Homo sapiens: one gene and its partners. The protein of the gene in region 5 purifies or fractionates together with the protein of the main gene of each other region. This does not show direct contact. Each region holds a gene or a part of one and is shown on either strand. Other genes may lie near its edges. The genes, in order: FLCN, ENDOD1, HPCAL1, TBL2, DPEP1, PIGQ and ABCB6.

Evidence for each region.
Region 1: the proteins of DPEP1 (region 5) and FLCN purify together in Homo sapiens (affinity purification with mass spectrometry; 2 studies listed by BioGRID and IntAct, with this or other methods). This does not show direct contact.
Region 2: the proteins of DPEP1 (region 5) and ENDOD1 purify together in Homo sapiens (affinity purification with mass spectrometry; 2 studies listed by BioGRID and IntAct, with this or other methods). This does not show direct contact.
Region 3: the proteins of DPEP1 (region 5) and HPCAL1 purify together in Homo sapiens (affinity purification with mass spectrometry; 2 studies listed by BioGRID and IntAct, with this or other methods). This does not show direct contact.
Region 4: the proteins of DPEP1 (region 5) and TBL2 purify together in Homo sapiens (affinity purification with mass spectrometry; 2 studies listed by BioGRID and IntAct, with this or other methods). This does not show direct contact.
Region 6: the proteins of DPEP1 (region 5) and PIGQ purify together in Homo sapiens (affinity purification with mass spectrometry; 2 studies listed by BioGRID and IntAct, with this or other methods). This does not show direct contact.
Region 7: the proteins of DPEP1 (region 5) and ABCB6 purify together in Homo sapiens (affinity purification with mass spectrometry; 2 studies listed by BioGRID and IntAct, with this or other methods). This does not show direct contact.

What each region holds. Positions count from the first base shown.
Region 1 is NC_000017.11:17,220,169-17,223,668, forward strand, and holds part of FLCN (folliculin), read right to left. Parts: intron 2,494-3,500; coding exon 2,333-2,493; intron 1,461-2,332; coding exon 1,369-1,460; coding exon of another isoform or gene 1,211-1,368; exon of another isoform or gene 1-1,210. UniProt on the Homo sapiens protein: Multi-functional protein, involved in both the cellular response to amino acid availability and in the regulation of glycolysis.
Region 2 is NC_000011.10:95,127,846-95,130,495, reverse strand, and holds part of ENDOD1 (endonuclease domain-containing 1 protein precursor), read right to left. Parts: intron 2,120-2,650; coding exon 917-2,119; 3' UTR 1-916. UniProt on the Homo sapiens protein: May act as a DNase and a RNase. Plays a role in the modulation of innate immune signaling through the cGAS-STING pathway by interacting with RNF26.
Region 3 is NC_000002.12:10,309,404-10,312,903, reverse strand, and holds part of HPCAL1 (hippocalcin-like protein 1), read right to left. Parts: intron 1,202-3,500; exon of another isoform or gene 1-1,201. UniProt on the Homo sapiens protein: May be involved in the calcium-dependent regulation of rhodopsin phosphorylation.
Region 4 is NC_000007.14:73,572,080-73,575,579, forward strand, and holds part of TBL2 (transducin beta-like protein 2), read right to left. Parts: intron 2,435-3,500; coding exon 2,304-2,434; intron 2,044-2,303; coding exon 1,859-2,043; intron 1,393-1,858; coding exon 1,241-1,392; intron 892-1,240; coding exon 765-891; intron 1-764.
Region 5 is NC_000016.10:89,627,142-89,630,641, reverse strand, and holds part of DPEP1 (dipeptidase 1 isoform a precursor), read right to left. Parts: intron 1,688-3,500; exon of another isoform or gene 1,673-1,687; intron 373-1,672; exon of another isoform or gene 338-372; 5' UTR 232-337; coding exon 128-231; intron 1-127. UniProt on the Homo sapiens protein: Hydrolyzes a wide range of dipeptides including the conversion of leukotriene D4 to leukotriene E4. Hydrolyzes cystinyl-bis-glycine (cys-bis-gly) formed during glutathione degradation.
Region 6 is NC_000016.10:576,468-579,967, reverse strand, and holds part of PIGQ (phosphatidylinositol N-acetylglucosaminyltransferase subunit Q), read right to left. Parts: intron 1,590-3,500; coding exon 1,463-1,589; intron 1,184-1,462; coding exon 1,030-1,183; intron 900-1,029; coding exon 788-899; intron 1-787. UniProt on the Homo sapiens protein: Part of the glycosylphosphatidylinositol-N-acetylglucosaminyltransferase (GPI-GnT) complex that catalyzes the transfer of N-acetylglucosamine from UDP-N-acetylglucosamine to phosphatidylinositol and participates in the first step of GPI biosynthesis.
Region 7 is NC_000002.12:219,212,616-219,215,958, reverse strand, and holds part of ABCB6 (ATP-binding cassette sub-family B member 6), read left to right. Parts: intron 1-876; coding exon 877-998; intron 999-1,460; coding exon 1,461-1,570; intron 1,571-1,772; coding exon 1,773-1,838; intron 1,839-2,007; coding exon 2,008-2,133; intron 2,134-2,292; coding exon 2,293-2,369; intron 2,370-2,456; coding exon 2,457-2,520; intron 2,521-2,632; coding exon 2,633-2,718; intron 2,719-2,893; coding exon 2,894-2,951; intron 2,952-3,343. UniProt on the Homo sapiens protein: ATP-dependent transporter that catalyzes the transport of a broad-spectrum of porphyrins from the cytoplasm to the extracellular space through the plasma membrane or into the vesicle lumen.

The DNA of each region.
Region 1 (3,500 bases), on a different chromosome or scaffold from region 5:
CCAAGTAGTGGGACTACAGGCATGCGCCACCACGCCCAGCTACTTTTCATATTTTTTGTAGAGACTGGACCTCCCTATGTTGCTCAGGCTGGTCTCAAACTCCTGAGCTCAAGCAATCCACCTGTCTCGGTCTCCCAAGAGCTGGGATTCCAGGCGTGCACCAGTGCCTGACTTCGTTCTTTATGGCTACATCCAACATCATTTCATTTAGTCCTCTCAGCTGTTCTGAGGTCAGCACTATTATCTCCATTTCACAGATGAAGAAATTAGTATTTGTCATTTCAACGAAACTTCATGGAGCCCTCACAAATGACAACATCTCCATTTCACATCACGAGACCCAAAGGGAAGGGTGCACGTCAGAAGCAAATCCAGGATGCGAAGCCAGGTCTGTCTGATGCCAAAGGGCAAGCCCTGAGCCCGAAACCCCATACTGCGCATGCCCAGCACACCTGCGTTTCCAGCTCTCACAAAGGCTTCGACAGACCTGGCTCTTCGTGCTAAAAAGCTCACCAAGACACTGCCCTTGCCATCTGCACCTGCCTAGAAACATGATTAGCACTATAATAAATGGCTCCAGGGCCAGCCAACCTGCAGGGCATGGGGGTGGATTCCCAGGCTTTGTCTTTCCTGACCAGGTTTTGCTCTTGCTGAGACTCCATTGGCAAAGCTTATTTGAGGGCACGCCTGCACCTGCCTGCAGAAACACCTCGAAACAGCTCTGGCTGTTTGGAAGGCTGGTCATTTGCAAGCAGAAGCATGGGAAGCATTATTAATGACATGTGGTGTGGAACAATGGTCGTACCACAGACCTGTAGCACCAAGATCAAATCATCCCTGATGGAAAGCTTGGCCAAGACTGGCCCAGTGCTTCCAGGCTGGTGCACACAGTGCCACGATCCCCAAACACAGGGCCCCAAGCCCCAGATCAGGAACCTGGGGAAGCCCAGGCACCTGGGAGGTCAGGGAACCACTGCCCTTCATGGAAAACTTGGGACGAACTGAAACAGAACACTTTATTTGTAAAGGAGCAAAGACCGTCGACCAGGCCAAGCACTTGGCTATCACAAAATCGGGACGAGAAGCCTTTAATCAGCCAGTTCTCTCTACAGACAGCCCACCTGTGAATTTTCCCCACCTAGCTGGGGAACAGATTCTTTCACATGGCGGTCAAGGCAAACGAGACAGGAAATCACAACAATCACAACAATCACACCGAGATCGGAGGGTGAGCTTCCCGAAGGCTCGTTCTGGGCTGATTCAGAGCCGCGTTTCCCTCCCTCAGCGATTCCTGCCAGGAGAGCAGACAGCTGGTACCGCCCCACGGCCATCCGGGCCAAGGCCCCGGCAACAGCACCCCTGCCTCACCAGCGAGCTTCTCCATCTGGACCAAGGTATCCTCGGTCGGAGCACCTTCCAGGAGCTTCTCGGTCAGCCGGCTGCCACACGCCTTCAGGAGCCTGGAGAACACAGCACCAGCTATGAGCGTTCTCGCCAAAGGAAAAAGCAAACCTGACGCTCACCCAGCCCCTGATCCTACCAGTTTAAAGAAAAAATGGGTATAAAAGAACACCAGCAGGGCACAACCAGCCAGATCCCGCATGCAGGCAGTTCCACAAGTCAACGACCAAGGTCCTTCAATAGATGGATGGGAGGAACTTGGAGGGGAGGGGATGCAAGGGGGAGCTGTTCTAAACCAGAGAGACTTGGGGCGCTGCTCCGATGCCAATGCAGTCACTTGTGAGACAAAAGGTAAACTGCACAAGGGCTTGCAGCCTGGAGAACACTCAGGAGTCTGTCCGTTTTGTCGGACATGATCACAGTATTGTGATTATATTTATGGCTGGAATGATACGACTCAGATTTGCTTTAAAAAAAAAAAAAAAGGCTGGGCGCGGTGGCTCACACCTGTAATCCCAGCACTCTGGGAGGCTGAGGCAGGTGGATCACATGAGGTCAGGAGTTTGAGAACAGCCTGGCCAACATGGTGAAACCCCGTCTCTACCAAAAATAAAAAAATTAGCTGGGTGTGGTGACAGGCGCCTGTAATCCCAGCTACTTGGGAGGCTGGGGCAGGAGAATCACTTGAACCCAGGAAGAAGTGAGTTCCACATCAATATGTTTTCAGCACACTCAGGGGAAGAGGCCTACAGAACAAGGACTCCCAGCCCAGATCTGTGCTCACTGACAAGTGCCCACAGGCCAGTGCTCCTCACAGAGGCAGCAAGCAAACACGGCTAAGGACTGTTCTCCCAAATCCATGGACAAGCCAACCAATGTATCGTGACTGCTCTATCCTAACAGATATGCCAAAAGCAGAGACGCCCGTTACCAGGCAAAGGAGGTGTGCAGGCACGCCCACAGGTTGTCATCACTTGTCAGCGATGTCAGCGAGCGGGCGGCGTTGCCGTTCCTCTGGTGTAGGAATGGCGTGAAGGCTGTGTTCATCCTCTGAGCACGCTGTGGGCATCCAAACTGCTCTGCCTCAAACACCTGAAATGCAAAGGGAAGGGATGGCCTCTTTAAGCCAAAGCTGCCAGCAGCTCGGACCCCTACTCGTTCACAGCCAACTCCAGGACCTGACTCCTGGAGGATCAGTCCCACTATACTCTCTCCATGCAGAGCACACAAAGTGCCACCAGTCCAATCATTCCCAACAGCATAGCTCTGCCCCGGCTACATCAGGAGCTATCCGAGAACAGAAATCGGTTGAGCTTCTCCTGTCCCCTTCCTAATGAGTGACCCAAGGCACCCAGGGGGATTCTCGTGAGTGGCCATCTGCGCTGCTCCCCACCTGTCTCCACCTCCCCTTCTGGGTGCACTACTTGGCTAAGGCACACGTGACTGGCTCTGGTCAATGAGCTGAGACAAACAAGGCCCTCAGCACCATCTGTGCTTCTGGAGGGCAGAAGGAGCAACATTTTTTCCTTTCTTTTTTTTTTTGAGATGGAGTCTCACTCTGTCGCCCAGGCTGGAGTGCAATGGTGTGATCTCGGCTCACTACAACCTCTGCCTCATGGGTTCAAGCGTTTCTCCTGCCTCAGCCTCCCAAGTAGCTGGGATTACAGGCATGCACCACCATGCCCAGCTAATTTTGTATTTCTGGAAGAGACGGGGTTTCTCCATGTTGGTCAAGCTGGTCTCAAACTCCCGACCTCAGGTGATCTGCCCGCCTTGGCCTCCCAAAGTGCTGGGATTACAGGCGTGAGCCACTGCGCCCAGCCTAGGGGAAGCATTTTCATATGGCTGCCGCTCTGCCTGCCAGGACGACCACAGCAAGCAGAGCCCCACTCTCCTGCAATGCACACACCATGAGTAAGAAACAGGCCCTATGGCTTGAAGGTGCTGAGATCCGAGGCTGTTACCAGAGCACGACCTGGCCTGGCCTGGCCTGAGCTGCATCTCCACAGCTGGAGGCCTACATTCGGTGGTGCAACTCAATGGGATTAACAGACATCCCTGAGATGAAGGCCAGAGGAAACAAAGACACCAGGGGTCTG
Region 2 (2,650 bases), on a different chromosome or scaffold from region 5:
ATCTTTCAGTTCAACCTTGTCAGGCAGGGATACACGTCAAGTTAATCCAAGCTGGACAAAAGATGTCCTTGGATCTGCAGCACCTACTAAGAGCAGGGCTGTCCACCTTCTCTTCTCTTCTTTCCACCGGAGAGGACTGTATTATACCATTCAAGGGGCCCAAAAAAAAAAGAAAAGAAAACTTTGCCCTTCAATTCAAACTCTGTTATGCCACATTTGGCATAAAATGCTTACCATTACCTAAAAATGATTTTTTAAAAAATGCTTATCATTACCTAAAAGAAAAATGTAGCAAAATTCAACTTTGGAGGAAAATGAAAACTGTACATATCCTTGAGAACCACGGAAAGCTAAGAGATATAGAAAATTGTACATTCCCACAAAGTTATTTCAACAAAGAGGCATTATCTGCATTCCACCAAGGTCAGTCGAGTTGAGGAGAAAGAGAAGCAAATGCCAAGAAATTGGCTGCAGATTTTTTTTTTAATCTGTTTTGCCTTAAATCACAAAGAGCAATGGGAAGAACAAGCTCCCTTTCTCCTTTTCTCAGACACCTTTGGTCTAAAGTTGTTCTTTTTCTAGTTCTTCCCTCCCCTGTAATTTTTAATTATCAGAAATAAATACCAGTGCATTTCAGGTGGTCGTCTGTGTTAGAGTGCATAACTGAAGTTATTAGTGGCTTGGGAGTTTGCACATATAACTGGAGGTAAACAGCAGATTACTACACCTAATCTCACCCTGAGCATTTCTCCTCTGTCAAGTCTAAATTCTGCCATCTTCTTTTGCAAAAACAAGCAGACATCCCCACCAAAGGCCAAAATATAATGATAACTGACAGTGAACAGAAACCCATTGTAAAGACAAACTATTCCAGCTTTCAAATTCACTGTGACTGGATACTATTAGTTTTTTGAGTTTATAACTCCCCAGAATTGTCAAAAGTAACCTTGTAGCCAATCCGCTTGCAGACACTAAAAACCACCTGAAATAGGCCACCCAGGGTACCAAAAGCAGTGTCAAAGAGCAGTGAGACAGTGCCACCAAGGCCCAGTGCAATGTCCTTGCAAACAATTGGAATAGCGCCCATGGTGTACACAGGGAAAGTGGCCACATCCACAAGGACACGGACAGGGATGCTCAGAACTCGGCAAATGGCCTTCAGCAGACAACAAAGGATCCGGAGGAGAGCCCTGATGACTTTGGCCACGACCTTGAGCACCTTCCAGGGAATGCTCACCAACTCTTCCCCAATGGCCATGAAGTATGAGATGGTGGCTGAGCCCAGGCGGTAAAGGCAACTTTCTATGCCATTAATCACCTGCTTGGTAACACACCACAGGAAATAGACAATGTTCTTCAGGATTGCTACCACAAGGTAATAAATTAATTGAAAAAGCTTGATGAATGGGGTAGCAATGAAGCCCATGAGTTTTCCCAAAAAGCTACTACTTCCCTCAGATGCCTCTGGAGGCAACAGAGTAGACCTCTTGCTCCTGGTGCTAGAAAGGGGACTAGAACTCTTTTGAGATTGTACCATTCGTTCTTCATCCTGGATTTGGTTAACCACTTCCAGGATTTTTTTCATTTTCTCTGTGTCTTGCTCAGTTTCACCACAGTTGTTCTGAAACAGCTGAGGGTTAAATGGAAGCAGTTTCTGAAGATCTTTTACCATCACATCTTCTATGATGTCACTGTCCCGGGTGTGCTTGACAAAGCCCATGGCCCAGCCTCCTCCAGGGACAGCACAACAGGCTGCCAGCCAAACAAACTCAGGGACTGCCACTTTGTCTTTAACTCTGTAGTCTGAGGGCACTGTGCCTGTGAGGATATATAGGTCTTCCCCACTGCCACACTGTGGGGTCAAAGCCCGGTCCATTAGGCTGTGGAGATTCACATACCACCGTTCCTGGAAGGACTGAGTCATTGGGGCTGAATTTGTGAGAGTAAATGTGGCCACCTGGACATCACTGCTAAGGGAGAATGGGTAAAGCTGTCCTCTTTGGTAATCAGAATCAAGGTAATCTGTATTCAAGGCTTGCTTGCTTCCCAGGCTGTTCACAGAGGTGATGGCCTCTGCCTCATTAATCGCCTCCTCAAGGTTGCTGTTGGGGTCATCGATCTGCAAGAAGAAAACAAGTGGTGAGATGCATCCCTGCTTACAGCACAGAGGCAGCACTAGAATCATCCTGCCCAGACTCTGGAGAAGTCCCCACTGGTCTATTACTTCAAACGCTTGAGTTTGGAAGGACTTGGTTCTCTGGCACATGGACACTTCATTCTGATATACCAAAATCCTGGTGTTTCAAAGCATCTTTCAGATAGGCTGTTTCCTAGTCTATTACCTGTGTTTATCCCACCCTGCTCTACAGTAACACCCCTTCACTCACACTCACACCCACCATCGTGATGTTCTTTTTAAAATCTGTTGTAGTCTGGGGCCAGGTGCGGTGGCTCACGCCTATAATCCTAGCACTTTGGGAGGCTGAGGCGGGTGGATCATCTGAGGTCAGGAGTTCAAGACCAGCCTGGCCAACATGCTGAAATCCTATCTCTACTAAAAATACAAAAATTAGCTAGATGTGGTGATGGGTGCCTGTAATCCCAGCTACATGGGAGGCTGAGGCAGGAGAATCACTTGAACCGGGGAGGC
Region 3 (3,500 bases), on a different chromosome or scaffold from region 5:
TGATGACGATGATAGTGATGGTGATGGTGGTGGTGGTGATGATGATGGTGATAATGACAGTGATGACAGTGATGATGAATGGTGATGATGACGGTGATGGTGACGATGGTGACAATGATGATAATGACGATGATGGTGATGATGACAGTGATGGTGAATGGTGATGACAGCAATGATGGTGGTGATGGTGATGATGATGGGGATGGGGATGATAGTGATGATGATGATGATGATGGTGATGGAGAAAGGTGATGATGACAGTGATAATGATGGTGATGGTGATGGCAATGGTGGTGATGGTGATGATGATGACAGTGATGGTGATGATGATGAGGATGGGGATGACAGTGATGATGGTGATGGTGGTGGTGATGATGATGGTGATAATGACAGTGATGATAGTGACGGTGAATGGTGATGATGACAGTAATGATGATGGTGATGGTGATGATGGTGATAATGATGATAGTGATGATGATGGTGATGACGACATTGATGGTGAATGGTGATGATGACAGCAATGACGGTGGTGATGGTGATGATGATGGGGATGAGGATGATATGATGATGATGATGATGATATGATGATGATGATGATGGTGATGGAGAAAGGTGATGATGACAGTGATAATGGTGGTGATGGTGATGGTAATGATAGTGATGATGATGGTGATGACAGTGATGATGGATGTTGATGATGACAGTGATGATGATGGTGATGGTGATGATGGTGGGGATGATAGTGATGATGATGATGGTGATGGAGAATGGTGATGATGGTGAGGATGATAGTGATGATGGTGATGGAGAATGGTGATAATGATGGTGGTGATGGTGGGGATGATAGTGATGACGATGATGATGACAGTGATGATGAATGGTGACGATAACAGTGATGATGGCGATGGTGATGATGGTGGTGGTGATGGTGATGACAGTGATGATGATGGTGATGATGACAGTGATGATGAATGGTGATGAATGGAATGATGATGATGATAGCGACAGCAATGATGATGGTAATGATGATGATGGGGATGGGGATGATAGTGATGATGATGATGATGGTGATGGAGAAAAGTGATGATGTCAGTGATAATGATGGTGAGGTGATGGATATGATAGTGATAATGATAATGGTGATAATGGTTTTGGGGAGCCAGCAACTGGCCCAGCACAAACCACAGGGGGAAGGAGCTACAGGCCACAGTGAGCCCTTTACACTGCTTGGCGATCCCTGGCCCCAAAACCTGGAATTCCTTACCTGTGCTCTACATCTTCTCCCCCCACTCCCATCCACACTGTGAAAATAATTCTCAAATGCATAACCTTTCACCTTACAATGAGCTCTGAGAATAATCAGCCAGGCCGTATTGTTTTTAGATAAGGTAACAGCATATCACCAAGAACATGTGCTCATAAAAGCAGCAATTCTTTATCCCTGGATGTCTTCAGAAAGAAGAGGGGAAAGCACCTCCTAAGAAATAAGAATAAATTGTACCTGCCAGCATTCCAGCATGAAGGCAAGCAGGGCCTTAGCACCTGCCAGAGCCCTGCGTCTACCTTTACTCGCTGGGAAGAAAGACACAGAGAAGCCACGGCAGCCACATCTCATGTCCCACCCCTGGAGGCTAAGCCCCTGCCAGGCATCCAGGCTGCATCACCAGCACGGGCTCCAAACTGCATGACTGAAGAGTTTCTAATAAAGCACACCTCAACCACTGCTGAGGGATTGGGGGGCGGGGGGACAACCAGTTCTGCCACCCATGGCCCTATCTCAGCCCCTGAAGCTGGGGGCTTTTCTGGACCTCCTACATCCCACACTCATTCTGCCAGGAGTGTCTCCAGCCACACACAGTAAATACGGAAAACTGCATGATGTTAAAAATGATTTTTTTTCAACATAGGTGATCGATTTCGAGAGGTTCTCACTTCTCTCCAAAAATTGATTACAGGGCAGCAAATAGAAAAGATGGGAGTGAAAGGGAGGAGTTGGGGCTGTCATCAATTCTGCTTTCTGGAAACGTCTGTTAAATGCACAGAAAGAAGGCAGAGAGCTGAGCATTTTGCTGCTAGAGAAAAAGAGCGCTGCAGTCGATACACACTGCTGTACAGAACCGCAATTCTGCAAGTGTGCCCAGCAGTCCTCCTCCGGCCTGCCAGCACGAACACTCCCAGACCCGATCCATGCTCTGCACACACTCACAGAGGGAGGGGACCACCAGCTCCGGGCCTCGTTATGCCTGAGGAACAACCTGCAGCTCTCTCTGTGCAACCCCCACCACCAAGCTCAGGGTCTCTGTAGGTGCATCAGGGACCCTGACAGATGCTTCTCAGAAGGCATGAGGCTAGGACAATCCAAAATGGCAGCTCCCCAAACTCCAAGCAGTAACCAGCACTGGCTGCCTTCCGGAAGCCTCCACACGCACAGCAGTCACAGACTCCAGCATCAAATCCCTTGCTACGACAGCCTGGATCAAAACATGCCTCATAAGCCCGAATTTGAAAAGGAATTCTGTACTCAGTGGCAGAGGAGGCACTAGATCCAAGAATGCTTAAAGAGTAATGGCAGCCACCACCACTTATTCCACACGTGACCAGCCAGACTCACCTAGGTACTCACATCTGCGTCCCCATCTACGTCTGAGCTGCGCCTAGAACCCCTTTCTGCACATGACCAAACAGACTCAGAGAACATCACCAGCCAGTAAACAGAGCAAAGACTACAGTTCAAACCCAGTCTGCCACATCTGCAGACCTGGGTTTGAATTGTAGTTCCTGTCAATATCTGAGCTCAGCCTAAAACCCCTTTCTGCACCTGAGCAAACAGATTCAGAGACCATCACCAGCCAATAAACAACAGAGCAAAGACTACAATTCAAACCCCAGTGTCCCTGATCTTTCCAAGGTATTTTGCAAATGAGGTTCTAATACTCCGATTCAAGAATGTCTTGGTTCTTTCCACCATGATTTCTTTCATGGTTTCTGTCCACCATGAGAGTTCTCTACAACCATGGGAGAGAACGGTCATTTGTGATCTACCTGGCGTACAATGGGTATACAATTTCTGTGTCTTGGTTTGTGCATCTGTCAAATGGCATCTCATCCTCTGCTCTCTTCCTCAAAGAGTGAAAATGATCCAAGGTGAGAAATGCATCAGAAATGCACCAAGCCACCCAAGGCCACAGCACCACTGCATTCAACGCCCTCCCCCAGCCCCTTCTATTTACCAGGAGACCTCTCTACACACACACATTGCTTGAACCATCTCTACCTGTTCAGTTGTGGACTAGGTAGGTACTGGGGCAACACTGTGTGAACATGTGTCACACAGCACTCATGCCCTAGAAGGAGCTTCCATGGCTTAGGAAGGGATGACAAGACTCGTACAGGAAAATCTGAACACCAGCCCAGGCAAGGCCATAAAAGGGCATATCATTACTACCAAAACAAGGGCGGAAGAGAAAGTGACCTCGTTTAATTCTTGATCCTTCTACTTT
Region 4 (3,500 bases), on a different chromosome or scaffold from region 5:
ACCACAACAAAAAAGTTCTTTTATGTATGTGACCTCAGTTTATCTTCTAGCCTTGTTCTAAGATATGTAACATCCCCGCCCAAAGGTGGCTTGGCACAGTGGCTCACGCCTGTAATTCTACCACTTTGGGAGGTCGAGGCAAGAGGATCACTTGAGGCCAGGAGTTCAGGACCAGCCTGGGCAACATAGTAAGACCCCATCTCAACAAAAAATACAAAAATTAGCCAGGTGTGGTAGTGCACGCCTGTAGTCCCAGCTACTCGGGAGGCTAAGGTGGGAGGATGGTCTGAGCCTGGGAAGTCAAGGCTACAGTGAGCTGTGATTGCGCCACTGCACTCCTGCCTGGGCGAGGGTGAAACCGTCTCAACAAACAAACAAACAAAAAACAAAAATTAGCTGAGTACAGTGGCACATGCCTATAGTCCTGACTACTCAGGAGGCTGAGCTGGGAGAATAGCTACAACCCAGGAGTTTGAGGCTGCAGTGAGCTATGATCGCACCACTGTGCTCCAGCCTGGGTGACAGAGTGAGACTAATTTTCTAAAAAACAAAAACACTGAAGATGAAGAAATAGCGACTAAGGACATGGGGCGACCTGCATGAAATCCCACTACTGCAAGTGGGGAGAGCTGAGACTTGAAGCTCGGGTTCCTGACCCCACCCCGTATGCTCTTCCCACGCGATGAAGCTGGCTCTCTGTTCTGTGCCTGCTCCCCAGCCCCAGCCTCTCGTGGTCCCAGACGCCAATACCCCTCCTTGCCCACCTGCCACAGGGAGATACAGCAGCGTGTGTGTTGTTCATCTGGTTGGTGTTGATGGTAGACAGCACTTGACCCTTCAGGCTCCAGATGAGGACAGTGGTGTCACTGGAGGCAGTCATGATAAACTTCCCTGAGCGGGAAGGGAGTGATGTGGGTCACGGGCAGTGACCTGACCAACTGTCACTCTCCAAAGACACTTACAAGGCCTCTGCTGCCCGAAGTATACATGTCTCCTCCCAGGCCAAGGGTCACTACAGATAAGGACTCTGCTGAAGACTGTGGCCCTTCCCCACCTTCCCTAGGGACCTGGTGTGGCCCAGGGACTCCAGGGGAGCACAGAGCCAGGCTGTTCAGAGCCAGGGACCCCTTGTTCCTCTCAGGTTGAGCAGAACTTTCAGGCAGCATTAACTCATTGAGGAAATAGAACTGGATCTTTCCTTCATGCTTTGGGCAGGCGCCACCCTCTGAATGCCTCTTACCTGTGTTAGCAATGCCAATGTCGATGACAGGCGCCTTGTGCTTTTTAGGGAAGTCCTCTGGGGTGGCTGTGAAGGTGTAGCCCCCATCCTCCCGCTTGGTCATCTTGAAGACACGGAGGGTGTCCCCGTTGGCCAGCCAGACGATGAAGGCTCTAGAGACAGGCAGCAGACAAGTCACGCTCTCACTGGACAAAGAGGCTCTGTGTTCCAGGTCCTGTGCTGGGTTCTCGGGGAAGTCAAGATCTCTCCTCATGCCCCACAGTCTAGCCTTAAAACTTAAGCCCCTGGTTCCAAATCTCATAAAACTCCTCAAAAGGTAAGATTCTGATAGCTTTGGCTCCTTTAGTTTCTCTCTAGGGTTTAGAAACTAAGGCTCATCTGGAAGCCAGGCCAAGGTATTTCCAGGTAGGAAGAGACCTCCCCCTGTTTCCTTGCTGTATAGCAGCCCAGATCTCCAGGGAGCCCCAGGCAGCGCGCAAACTATGTGGATGCTCTTTCTGGCACCCCAAGGGAGGCCCTGGGTCCAGGTCCCTCCTCACTACCTCAAAGCAGATATGGGAAGGCCAAAGCCTGGGACTAGGCCTCTGCAGGCAAACCTGAGGCTCCGTCTTGTCCCACCTGCAGTCAGGGCTGAAGCGCACCAGGGTGGCGTGGTCCAGCTCCACGTTGGCTCTCATGCTGCGGTGCTCTCGCTGCAGGAAGTCCTTGGTGCTCCAGATGCGGATGGTGCGATCATCTGCACAGGTAGCCAGGTATTTGCCATTGCTGCTAAAGTCCATGCAAGATATGTTCCCGCTGTGGCTCTAGGGGAAGGGTGGCAGGAAGTGTCAATAGGAGCTCCTGGGGGAGATGGGGAAGCCAAACCTGGAGCCGGGGAGATGGGGCCCTGTGGCCTGGATTAACAGCAAGCTGAGATTGGGCTGCGATGAGAGGGGACAGAATTAAGCACCCCCGCTGATTCTGATCAGAGGCAGGAGAGCCTGTAACATGCATGGAATACTCCAGAGGAAAAGCCTGTGGGGCTGAGTCTCAGGGTGCACGCTGTGCCAGGTACCCCACGTACCTTCAGAGCTGCAGCCAGGAGGCGGTGGGTGAAGTTGTGTTGTTGAGGCTTCTCCTTCCGAATCCGCTGATATTGTTTCTGCTTCTTGGATCCCGAAGATTTGTCAGGTGGAAATCCATTTGCTTTTTGGCCTATAAGGAAGGGCCATGTTGTTCTCCAGTTACTCACTGATAAGCATTTACTGCCCACCTATGATGAGCCAGGCATTGAGTGGAACAGCAGGAGATTAACCAGATATGGCCCTTGTCTTCTGGAGGAGAATGAGTGTGATATGGGCAAAAACAGAGGCTTTGGCTGGCTGGGTATGGTGGCTCATGCCTGTAATCCCAATGCTTTGGATCATTTGAGCCCAGGAGTTCGAGGCTGCAGTAAGCTATGATCACAACACTACTGCATTCCATCCTGAGTGACAGAGCAAGACCCTGTCTCAAAAAAAAACAAACAGAAAACAGAAACAAAACAGAGGCTTTGGAATCAGACCTGGGTTTGGATTCTGTCTCTACTACTGACTGACTACTGAGGAGGCTGTTTACAGTAAGTCCACAGAGCACCTTCATGTAGAGTGGAAAAGGCGCACTCTCTGGGTTGGGTGATGCTGCTGGGCGGGTACACAGCACGGCCAGTGGAGTGTGGATCCTTGGCCAGACATCCCTATGTAGGGAGTAATGTGCACAACCATCTCTAGCGGCCCTGCTTTGGGTAAGTTAGTGAATTGCTCTGGACCTTGGTTTTTTTTTTCTTTTCTTTCTTTCTTTTTTTTGGAGACAGAGTCTTGCTCTGTCGCCCAGGCTGGAGTGCAGTGGCGTGATCTCCGCTCACTGTAGCCTCTGCCTCCCAGGTTCAAGCAATTCTTGTGCCTCAGCCTTCCAAGTAGCTGGGATCATGGGCGTGCACCACCATATCCAGCTAATTTTTTTTTTTTTTTTCAGATGGAGTCTCGCTCTGTCACCCAGGCTGGAGTGCAGTGGCGTGATCTCAGCTCACTGCAAGCTCTGCCTCCCGGGTTCACGCCATTCTCCTGCCTCAGCCTCCCAAGTAGCTGGGACTACAGGCGCCCGCCACCATGCCCGGCTAATTTTTTTTTGTATTTTTAGTAGATGTGGGGTTTCACCACATTAGCCAGAATGGTCTCAATCTCCTGACCTTGTGATCCACCCGCCTCGGCCTCCCAAAGTGCTAGGATTACAGGCGTGAGCC
Region 5 (3,500 bases):
AGCCCCGGCACCCCCAGCCCTGGCTCCCCCAGCCCCGCTCCCCCAGCCCCGGCTCCCCCAGCCCCGCTCTCCCAGCCCCAGTTCCCAGTCCTGGTTCCCTAAGCACCTGGCTCAGGTGAGCACTCACCCATCAATGACAGGGGAGTCCCTCATGATCCTCTCTGCCTCGTCCCGAAAGAAGTCTGCAGTGCAGACGGCCACAAGGGGCCACAGCCACCATCCGCTCCACATGGTGGGGTCCCCGGGGACCTGTGTGCACTGCTGCCCTGGTGCCTCTGTGCTGGCCTGGCTGGCCCGTGCAGAAGGATGAGCTTCAGGCTGTGAGGAGCCACTCTGCCTGCCAGGAGAGGCACCAGAGGTGTGGGTGGAAGTGATGACAGGTGGCTGCTCTCCTGTTTATAGCTTCCCATGTTCAATAAGTAACCAGCACATTCCCCACCAGGGTGGGTAGGATGGAAGGCCGGACACTCAATGACTGGGCGTTGCTGTCTGGGCTAGGCGGAGGCATAGTAAGAAGCTGGGATCCCAGACCCAGGGGTGGAGCTAGAGCCCAGATGAAAGGACAGCAGGCTGAGAGCAGGCCCAGATGAGTGGTGAGTGGCTGTTGGCTCTAGCTGTGCTACTGTTATTACTACCACCTCCCTCAGGACCCGGGGGCCTAGATCTGCAAGCAAGACAACAGTCATTCAAATAGTGCATTCTCATAAAGCACCCCTTTCCACGTAAAAATCATCTTACGTGACTTGCCATGGGGGATAAACATTAGGGCGTTCCAGGAAGCTGCTGCACAGCCAGGTGTGCCCCTGGCGCCTGCCCTGTTGCTGAGGGGTCCGCACCCCCGGCCTGCAGCCCTCCAGCGTCACAGGGACCCACACTCCAGCTACAGAGCTTCAGGCCAAGCAGCTAGACACGTCCTTAGAACCGGGGCCTCTCTAGGACTCAGCAGAGCACATTCAAGTCGCCCGAGGGCTCCTGGGCACACAGTTCCCAGGTGGTGCCCTGACGGAAGAATCTTAATCCCAGGGCTGGGTGGTGTCTGGGGTTCTGGGGGACAGTGGGCTGAGCACTGGGGCTAAACCAGGCCTGCTGGGAGGAGCAGGAGGGAAAACTGGTCAGAGGCTTCGGGGGGGGGTGGGGGGAGCCCGGCAGGGAAGGAGGATCGCCCCAGCTGGAGGACAGTGGCTCCCTCTCGGCTCACTGCAACCTGCACCTCCTGGGCCCAAGCAACCCTCCTGCCTGAGCCTCCTGAGTAGCTGGGACCACAGGCGTGCACCACCACGTCTGGCTAATTTTTGTATTTTTTGTAGAGATGGGGTCTTCCCCATGTTTCCCAGGCTGGTCTCGAACTCCTGGCCTCAAGCAAACCTGCCTGCTTTGGCCTCTCAAACTGCGGGGATTACAGGCATGAGCCACCATGCCCAGGTCATGATAAATCGTATTTTCATTCAATATTTTAAAAAAATCAGAATTCATGTAAAAAAAATCCATAATGAACAAAGTATAAAACTTTAAAATAGCTGGGCACAGTCATTCACGCCTATAATCCCAGCACTTTGGGAGGCCGAAGCGGATGGATCACTTGAGGTCAGGAGTTCAAGACAAGCCTGGCCAATATGGTGAAACCCTCTCTGTATTAAAAAGACAAAAATTAGCTGGGCATGGTGGTGCGCACCTGTAGTCCCAGCTACTCAGGAGGCTGAGGCAGGAGAATCACTTGAACCCGGGAGGCGGAGGTTGCTGTGAGCCAAGATCATGCCACTGCACTTCAGCCTGGGCAACAGATCAAGACTCCATCTCAGAAAAACAAACAAACAAAACACAAACCGCCCCCCCTCCCCCACAAACCTTTAAAATAAAGACAGGCCCAATATTCTGATTTTTCCTTTTGCCTTCAGCTCCAATACTATCTACACAGCCCTGGACTCTGAGAACATCCATGTTCTGCTTGTCGCTTCAGAGGCAGAAACTGAGTGACAGGAGAGCATTTCCAAGAGCACCACACTCCCTCAGGTGCCACTAAGGAGAGAACTTGAGGCCACTGTATTTGTCCATTTTCACACTGCTATAAAGAAATACCCTTTGGGGGCTGGGCAAGGTGGCTCACACCTGTAATCCCAGCACTGTGGGAGGCTGAGGCGGGCGGATCACCTGAGGTCAGGAGTTCGAGATCAGCCTGGGCAACATGGTGAAACCCCGTCTCTACTAAAAATACAAAAATTAGCCAGGCATGGTGGTGCATGCCTGTAATCCCAGCTACTCGGGAGGCTGAGGCAGGAGAATCGCTTGAATCCGGGAGGTGGAGGATGCCATGAGCTGTGATCGCGCCATTGCACTCCAGCCTGGGCGACAAGAGTAAATCTCTATCTCACAAAAAAAAAAAAAAAAGAAAGAAAAGAAAGAAAGAAAGAAATACCTTTTGTGGCCGGGTGTGGTGGCTCACGCCTGTAATCCCAGCACTGTGGGAGGCCGAGGCGGGTGGATCACCAGGTCAGGAGATCGAGACCATCCTGGCTAACATGGTGAAACCCCGTCTCTACCAAAAATAAAAAAAATTAGCCGGGCATGGTGGCGGGTGCCTGGAGTCCCAGCTACTTGGGAGGCTGAGGCAGGAGAATGGCATGAACCCGGGAGGCAGAGCTTGCAGTGAGCCGAGATTGCACCACTGCACTCCCGCCTGGGCGAAAGAGCGAGACTCCGTCTCAAAAACAAACAAAAATACCCTTTGGGAGGCCAAGGCAGGAGGATCACGAGGTTAGGAGTTTGAGACCAGCCTGACCAACATGGTGAAACCCCTTCTCTACTAAAAATACAAAAATTTACTGGGCATGGTGGCCCTTGCCCGTAATCCCAGCTACTTGGAGGCTTTTGGAGGAGAATCACTTGAACCAGGGAGGCGGAGGTTGCAGTGAGCCGAGATTGCAACACTGTACTCCAGCCTGGGTGGCAGAGCAAGACTCCGTTTCAAAAAAAAAAAAAAAAAAAAAAAAAAAGAAGAAATATCCAAGACTGGGTTCCCCTGCCCTTCCTTTCCCTCTTCTCCCCTCCCCTCCTTCCTCTCTCTCTCTCTGAGACAGAGTCTCAGTAGGTCACCCAGGCTGGAGTGCGGTGGCACAATCTCGGCTCACGGCAACCTCTGCCTCAACTGATTCTCATGCCTCGGCCTCCGGAGTAGCTGGGATTACAGGCGCACACCACACCCAGCTAATTTTTTTTGTATTTTTAGTAGAGACAGGGTTTCATCATGTTGGTCAGGCTGGTCTTGAACTCCTGACCTAAAATAATGTGCCCTCCTCGGCCTCCCACAGTGCTGGGATTACAGGTGTGAGCCACCATGCCTGATCCCACATCTGACTTTTTTTTTTTTTTTTTGAGACGGAGTCTCACTCTATTGCCCAGGCTGGAGTGCAGTGGCGCAACCTCAGCTCACTGCAAGCTCTGCCTCCCGGGTTCATGCCATTCTCCTGCCTCAGTCTCCAGAGAAGCTGGGACTACAGGCGCCC
Region 6 (3,500 bases), about 89 Mb from region 5:
GACCACCCAAGACGGTGCGTGGCCACACAGTCACCAAGAACATGCTCTGCATGGCAGCATCCAGCGGCTGCGGCAAGTGTGAGCAGCAGACGGGCCCGGGCAACTCTAGTCTCCGAGCCCGGGCACCTCTAGTCTCCGGGCCCGGGGCACCTCAAGTCTCCGGGCCCGGGGCACCTCTAGTCTCCGGGCCCGGGGCACCTCTAGTCTCCGGGCCCGGGGCACCTCAAGTCTCCGGGCCCGGGGCACCTCTAGTCTCCGGGCCCGGGGCACCTCAAGTCTCCGGGCCCGGGGCACCTCTAGTCTCCGGGCCCGGGGCACCTCTAGTCTCCGGGCCCGGGGCACCTCTAGTCTCCGGGCCCGGGGCACCTCTAGTCTCCGGGCCCGGGGCACCTCAAGTCTCCGGGCCCGGGGCACCTCTAGTCTCCGGGCCCGGGGCACCTCTAGTCTCCGGGCCCGGGGCACCTCTAGTCTCCGGGCCCGGGGCACCTCTAGTCTCCGGGCCCGGGGCATCTCTAGTCTCTGGGCCCGGGGCACCTCTAGGGCCTGTGCCTGCACCACCTTCGGGGCTGTGTGTCTGTCTCTTCTCTGTGGCCCAGGGAAGCTCTGCGCTGCTTCAGAGCCCCACGTGCAGCCCACACCGCAGACTTATCTATTCCCAGGGCCTGTGCGCGGCCTCAGCTGCAGGACGGGAGCAGGCTGCCCCCTTGTGGTGCCCAAGCACCGCGCTGGCCCAGCGGGCACAGGCCGGAGGCAGTCAGCCCCTCCAGCCACGAACCCTGCCCCATACCTGGTCCAGGTCATAGGAACAGGAGTCCACGCGCTGGCGCAGAACGTTCCACTTCTTCCCCCGGAACAGACGCCACAGTGAGGACAGGCCATGGATCTTCAGGCAGTACAGCCTACAGGACGCAGTGCTGTCGGGCCCGGCCCCGCCCCGCCCCGCCCCGCCCCCGCCCCACTCGAACGCCCGCCCAGCCGGAGCCTCTGCACCTCCCAGGGGGCGGTGGGGAGGGGGAAGCCCACGCCCACCTGGCTCCATAGACGTAAAAGCAGTAGATGTGGAAGGTGAGGAGGGCGATAATGTCCGAGAGGAGGGACAGGGCCACCGTCAGGCCCAGGCAGGCCGAGAGGCCCACGTGCCAAAGGATGTGCTCCACGAAGGGGGACATGAGGTGGATGTAGCCTGGCAGGGTGGGGTAGGCCCTCAGGAGGCGCTCAGACCCCAGCCCTCGGCCCAGCACAACCCTCACACACACAGGACATGAGGTGCGTGTAGCCTGGCAGGGTGGGGTCAGCCCTCGGGAGGTGCCCAGGCCCCAGCCCTCAGCTGAGCACAGCAGGCCTCACACACACAGGACGCTGGGGAGCAGAGTTGGGGGCACAGGGGGCGGGGTCTGGCTGGGTCCCTACCCTCTTCAGCAAGCTCTGGGGTCCCTGGGGCCCCCGCCTGCCCTGCACTCACTGATCCACAGGTGGATGTGGTAGAGGAAGAAGCGGCCCAGCACCTGGTCCAGTGCACGGTTCATCTTGAGCCCGGCGGGAGCACCCATCAGCCACTGCAGCAGATGCTGGAGCTCCTCGGCCACGTGCTGCAGGGACACAGGGGCCACGCTGGGGCGGGGGCAGCCAGGCTCAGCACCTGCATCTCCCCAGGCTCTTTCGTGATGGGCTCCCACCTTGGCCAGCCTTCCCTCCTCCAGGGTCTACCGCGTCCTAGCGTGGACAGCACACGGGCTCCCCTTCACAGATGGCTCCGGGATTGGGGTCTGAGGAGGCTGGTCTGGAGGCCTCTCTCTGCAGGCCTGGGTGACATGGCCGGGCCCACAGGGCATCCGCGTGGCCCCCTGCCTGCACCCACCTCTACCATCTTCCTCCCCTCTCACTACCTCGGCCACAGGACCCACTGGAGCCCTCGGCCCCAAACACGTGGACGCACTGAGGCCTGGCAGACCCTGATTCGGCTCCAGCCCTGCAGGGAAGCCCACAGCTGACACAGTCCCCTCCAGAGGCCCCACCCCATCGCAGAGGCTGGGGGCTGCCCGGGATGACCACAGGTGAGCGAGACAGTGCCAAGCCCATCAGGGCCACAGCGACCAGGCAGGAGGACAGGTCCCCAGAGGGAGGATGGCGTCAAGTTGAGGGCACAGGCACCCCCAAGAGCAAACAGGGAAGCAGGGTCTTGGCCGCCCAGGAAGAAACTCAGCATCCAGAGGCTGTGCCCCAGCGGGCAGACCCCAAGGGAGCCTCAGCCTCCCCACTAAGGAGACAGTGAGTGACACCTTGGCCCCCACTTGCCCATTGCGCAGGCCCCTTCCAAGCCTGGGCCAAGGCCTCAGCCACAGCAGGACTGGCAAGAAGGAGAAAAGAACACTTTTTTTTTTTTTTTTTTCTGAGACGGAGTCTTGTTTTGTCGCCCAGGCTGGAGTGCAGTGGTGAGATCTCGGCTCACTGCAAGCTCTGCCTCCCGGGTTCACGCCATTCTCTTGCCTCAGCCTCCCAATTAGCTGGGACTACAGGTGCCCACCACCATACCTGGCTAATTTTTTGTATTTTTAGTAGAGACGGGATTTCACTGTGTTAGCCAGGATGGTCTCGATCTCCTGACCTCATGATCCGCCCGCCTTGGCCTCCCAAAGTGCTGGGATTACAGGCATGAGCCACCACCCCCGGCTGAGAAAAGAACATTCTTTATAAATAGAGCTTATTTAATATTTAAAGGATAAGAGCTTGGCAGCAGGAAGAGACTTTCATTTTTAAATTAAATATTTATATTTCTGAGCACTTTTGCAAAAGGGAGGTCTAGGACAAAGTAGGCCGGTGGCAGGTGCGGACGACCACAGGCAAAGCTGCCGAGCCCCTTCCCCAGCCCCGCCCCTCCTTCCTTCTGGGCTGGAGCTCCCTGCACCCCCACAGCCACACAGACGTGCCTGATGCTGCCCCCAGAGGCCTGGCCTGGCCACAAGCAGGCCCAGTGCACACCTGCAGCCCACACAAGACCCACCCAGTCAGGCCTCAAGGAGGCCTCCACAGAGGCCCGAGGGTGGGCCAAAGAGTCAGGTACCACCCCCAGCAGGAAGACAAGCTCCTAATGGAAGAGACGGGGCTTTGGTGCTGAGGGAGGAAGACAGAGAAGCTGAAGGCCCAGAGGCAGCATGGAAATGCACTAGATCTGCAGAGGAGGGGGCTGCACCCGGCTGGAAACGGGGCACAGACCATGCAGGGAAGGTGGGAGATGGGAGACAAGCTGTGCCTCTGGCTCTCAGCACAGGAGTTACAGAATCAGCACAGGGGCAGGGCAGGAAGTCCCAGCTGGGCTGCACATGGGCCTCCCTGGACAGGAAAGGTTTCATGACCCTGGCTCTGCAGAGGGCCCCAGAGAGCCAGGAGGGCAACGCTGATCTCAGGGACCACAAGGGAGATACCAGGACGCTGGGCCCACAGGGAGAGGCGGGCTCCCCAGAGCCTCAGCCCGGCTGGCTCCTGCACACAGCCCCTTCAGA
Region 7 (3,343 bases), on a different chromosome or scaffold from region 5:
CCGGAGAAGCAGGGATAGGGGCCCGTGGGAGGAAGAGAACAGACCCCGCCTGAGAAGCTGCCGCTCCCACCTTGGTGTTTTTTAAAGTATAGGATTATTGTATACATGCTCTCCTAATAACTTAGGTAATGCGGGCAGAGGGCAAATCTCTTTCGAGCTGCACTTACTTTTTCAGAGCTTCCCACTCTGTTTAGTATGTTGGGTTCTGCTCTTTTTTTGAGACAGGGTCACGCTCTGTCACCCAGGCTGGAGTACAGTGGCATAATCTCTGCTCACTGCAACCTCTGCCTCCCGGGTTCAAGCAATTCTCCTGCCTCAGCCTCCTGAGTAGCTGGGATTACAGATGTGCACCAGCATGCCTGGCTAATTATTAGATTTTTTGTAGAAACAGGGTTTCACCATGTTGGCCAGGCTGGCCTGGAACTCCTAGCATCATGTGATCTGCCCACCTAGCATTCCAAAGTGCTGGGATTACAGTTGTGAGCCATTGTGCCCAGCTGGGTTCTGCTTTTTTGCATTTTTACATACATATTATATATGCAGACTCACAGAACTAATATGGCATTGTGGAGGTTTTTCCTAAAACAAATGGTATTGTGACATAGCCATCATTCTCAGAGTTGCTTATTAACAGAACATTATGGAGATATATTTTTCTTCCATGCCTGAAGGTCTCCCTCATTCATTGTAATTGATACAGAGAATTCTGTAGTTTGAGCATGGTTGATTTAGCCACCCACCTCTTGAGGGTAGAATTAATTAAGACTGGTTCCAGTCTGTTGCTTGAAAATAAAACACTACCCTGAAATGCCTAGAGGCAGGGTTGCTGGGTCTAAGCCCCCAGACCTTTCTTATTCACTTGACCTGCCCTCCTAGCTACCTGGTGTTCAATGTCATCCCCACGCTGGCCGACATCATCATTGGCATCATCTACTTCAGCATGTTCTTCAACGCCTGGTTTGGCCTCATTGTGTTCCTGTGCATGAGTCTTTACCTCAGTGAGTGCTGCTGGGAGACACCGTCTCCCTGAACTATCCAGGGACTCCCTTGGCCATGAGCTGTGCCCCCACTCAAGTGACCCACCTATGGGAGGCTGTGGATTGGTGGACTTGAATGGGCTCCTAGTGCTCGTCATGTGATGGGCGGGTCTCTTCTGTCAAATCAAACCTTAACCTAGCTGAGGGGCTGGGGAAGGACATTCTTGTCACGTTAAGTCTGAGCCGTGGACACAGGTCAAGGAAGCCTCGTTTGTGTAACAAGATGCAGCTTGCTTTCATTTACCAAAAGCGTTTTCTACACATGAGACTTTGTGCAGGCTGCAGAGGTGCCTCCCTGTGGAATCTGGGTGTCCGGGCTTGAGCATAGGCTTAGTGTGTACATGGCAGGTAGTGGACATTGACATTTGGTCTCTGCTTTTGGGGATGATGTCCTATTCTGCTCCCCATCCTGTCACTCTCCAGCCCTGACCATTGTGGTCACTGAGTGGAGAACCAAGTTTCGTCGTGCTATGAACACACAGGAGAACGCTACCCGGGCACGAGCAGTGGACTCTCTGCTAAACTTCGAGACGGTAACAGAGGGCCCGGTGGCAGTGGTGTGAGGCGTGGAGATGTGGAGGAGTGTAACCAGGACCACTGGGGCTGACAGAGAGCTGGGGGTGTGATGTTTGTGTGTGATGTTTGAACTCAGGAAGGAGGATTGAGAGTTGGGGGGAATGACCCGAGTGCCATGTGCTGTGCCCATGCCAAATAAATTTGGTTTGAATTCATCAGGTGAAGTATTACAACGCCGAGAGTTACGAAGTGGAACGCTATCGAGAGGCCATCATCAAATATCAGGTGAGGATGCTAGTTTGAGGCCTCCGGAGAATAATGCCCTGGCCTGGTAGAATTTTCAGGGCCAAGAGTGATAGTCGAGTGTTGGGGTAGAAGGGGCCTGGGCCCAGGTTTGGACTCACTGATGGCCATTGTGTATAGGACATTCCTCTTCCTGTGTTATTGCCCTCAGGGTTTGGAGTGGAAGTCGAGCGCTTCACTGGTTTTACTAAATCAGACCCAGAACCTGGTGATTGGGCTCGGGCTCCTCGCCGGCTCCCTGCTTTGCGCATACTTTGTCACTGAGCAGAAGCTACAGGTGAGGCAGGATCTTGGATGAGAGAGTGGGGCACAAGGAAAAGGGGGCCTGAGGCCTGTGTCTGGTCACCAGGCTCTTCGGTAGGAAGTGGGCAGGGTGACACAAGAAGAGCGGCCTGCAGGCCCCCCGTGACATGCTCTGCTTCCTTGATTGCCACAGGTTGGGGACTATGTGCTCTTTGGCACCTACATTATCCAGCTGTACATGCCCCTCAATTGGTTTGGCACCTACTACAGGTAATCTGAGCCCTGGCCCTCACCTGTCCAGGGCACATTATTATTTCCTGGCTACTCAGAGAAGTCCTAACCAGCACCTTTTTGCAGGATGATCCAGACCAACTTCATTGACATGGAGAACATGTTTGACTTGCTGAAAGAGGAGACAGAAGTGAGCGAAGGGAGAGGAGTAGGGTTTGGGGAGGGAGGAGCTGTGTGGTGTTTCTCGTGCTTGGAAAACACAAAGCTGAGAACCTCAGCACACATGGGTGGTGCCCTTCCAGGTGAAGGACCTTCCTGGAGCAGGGCCCCTTCGCTTTCAGAAGGGCCGTATTGAGTTTGAGAACGTGCACTTCAGCTATGCCGATGGGTGAGGCCTTCCTTTTGCTTCCTTTGCTTTTCCGTTCATTTGCACACTGCCTTCCTGCTTCTCAGTGCTCTGAATCCCTGCTTTTGGAAAAGAGCCTGGGCAGGGGAGGGGCAGGGCCTACTAGCAGCTCTGGTGATGGAAGGTGCCTGCTGAGCAACCCCACCTTTCCTTGCAGGCGGGAGACTCTGCAGGACGTGTCTTTCACTGTGATGCCTGGACAGACACTTGCCCTGGTGAGAGGAGACCCAGCCACTTGGCCCAGATGCCTCAAGCTTCCCTCATTCAGTGCCCATGGTAGCTTGTGACCCAGGCTGTGGAGTCAGAGAGCCCAGTCACGATAGGCAACCGGATTGAATGGTGCAGCCTCCATGGACACTGGTGACCTCTTGGAGAGGGAACCTCAAAAGCCAGTGGGCCTCGGCCGGCTGCGGTGGCACATGCCTGTAATCCCAGCACTTTGGGAGGCTTAGGTGGCCAGATCACCTAAGGTTAGGAGTTCAAGACCAGCCTGACCAACATGGTGAAACCCTATCTCTACTAAAAATACAAAAATTAGCCGGGCATGGTGGCGGGTGCCTATAATCCCACTACTAGGGAGGCTGAGGCAAGAGAATCGCTTGAACCT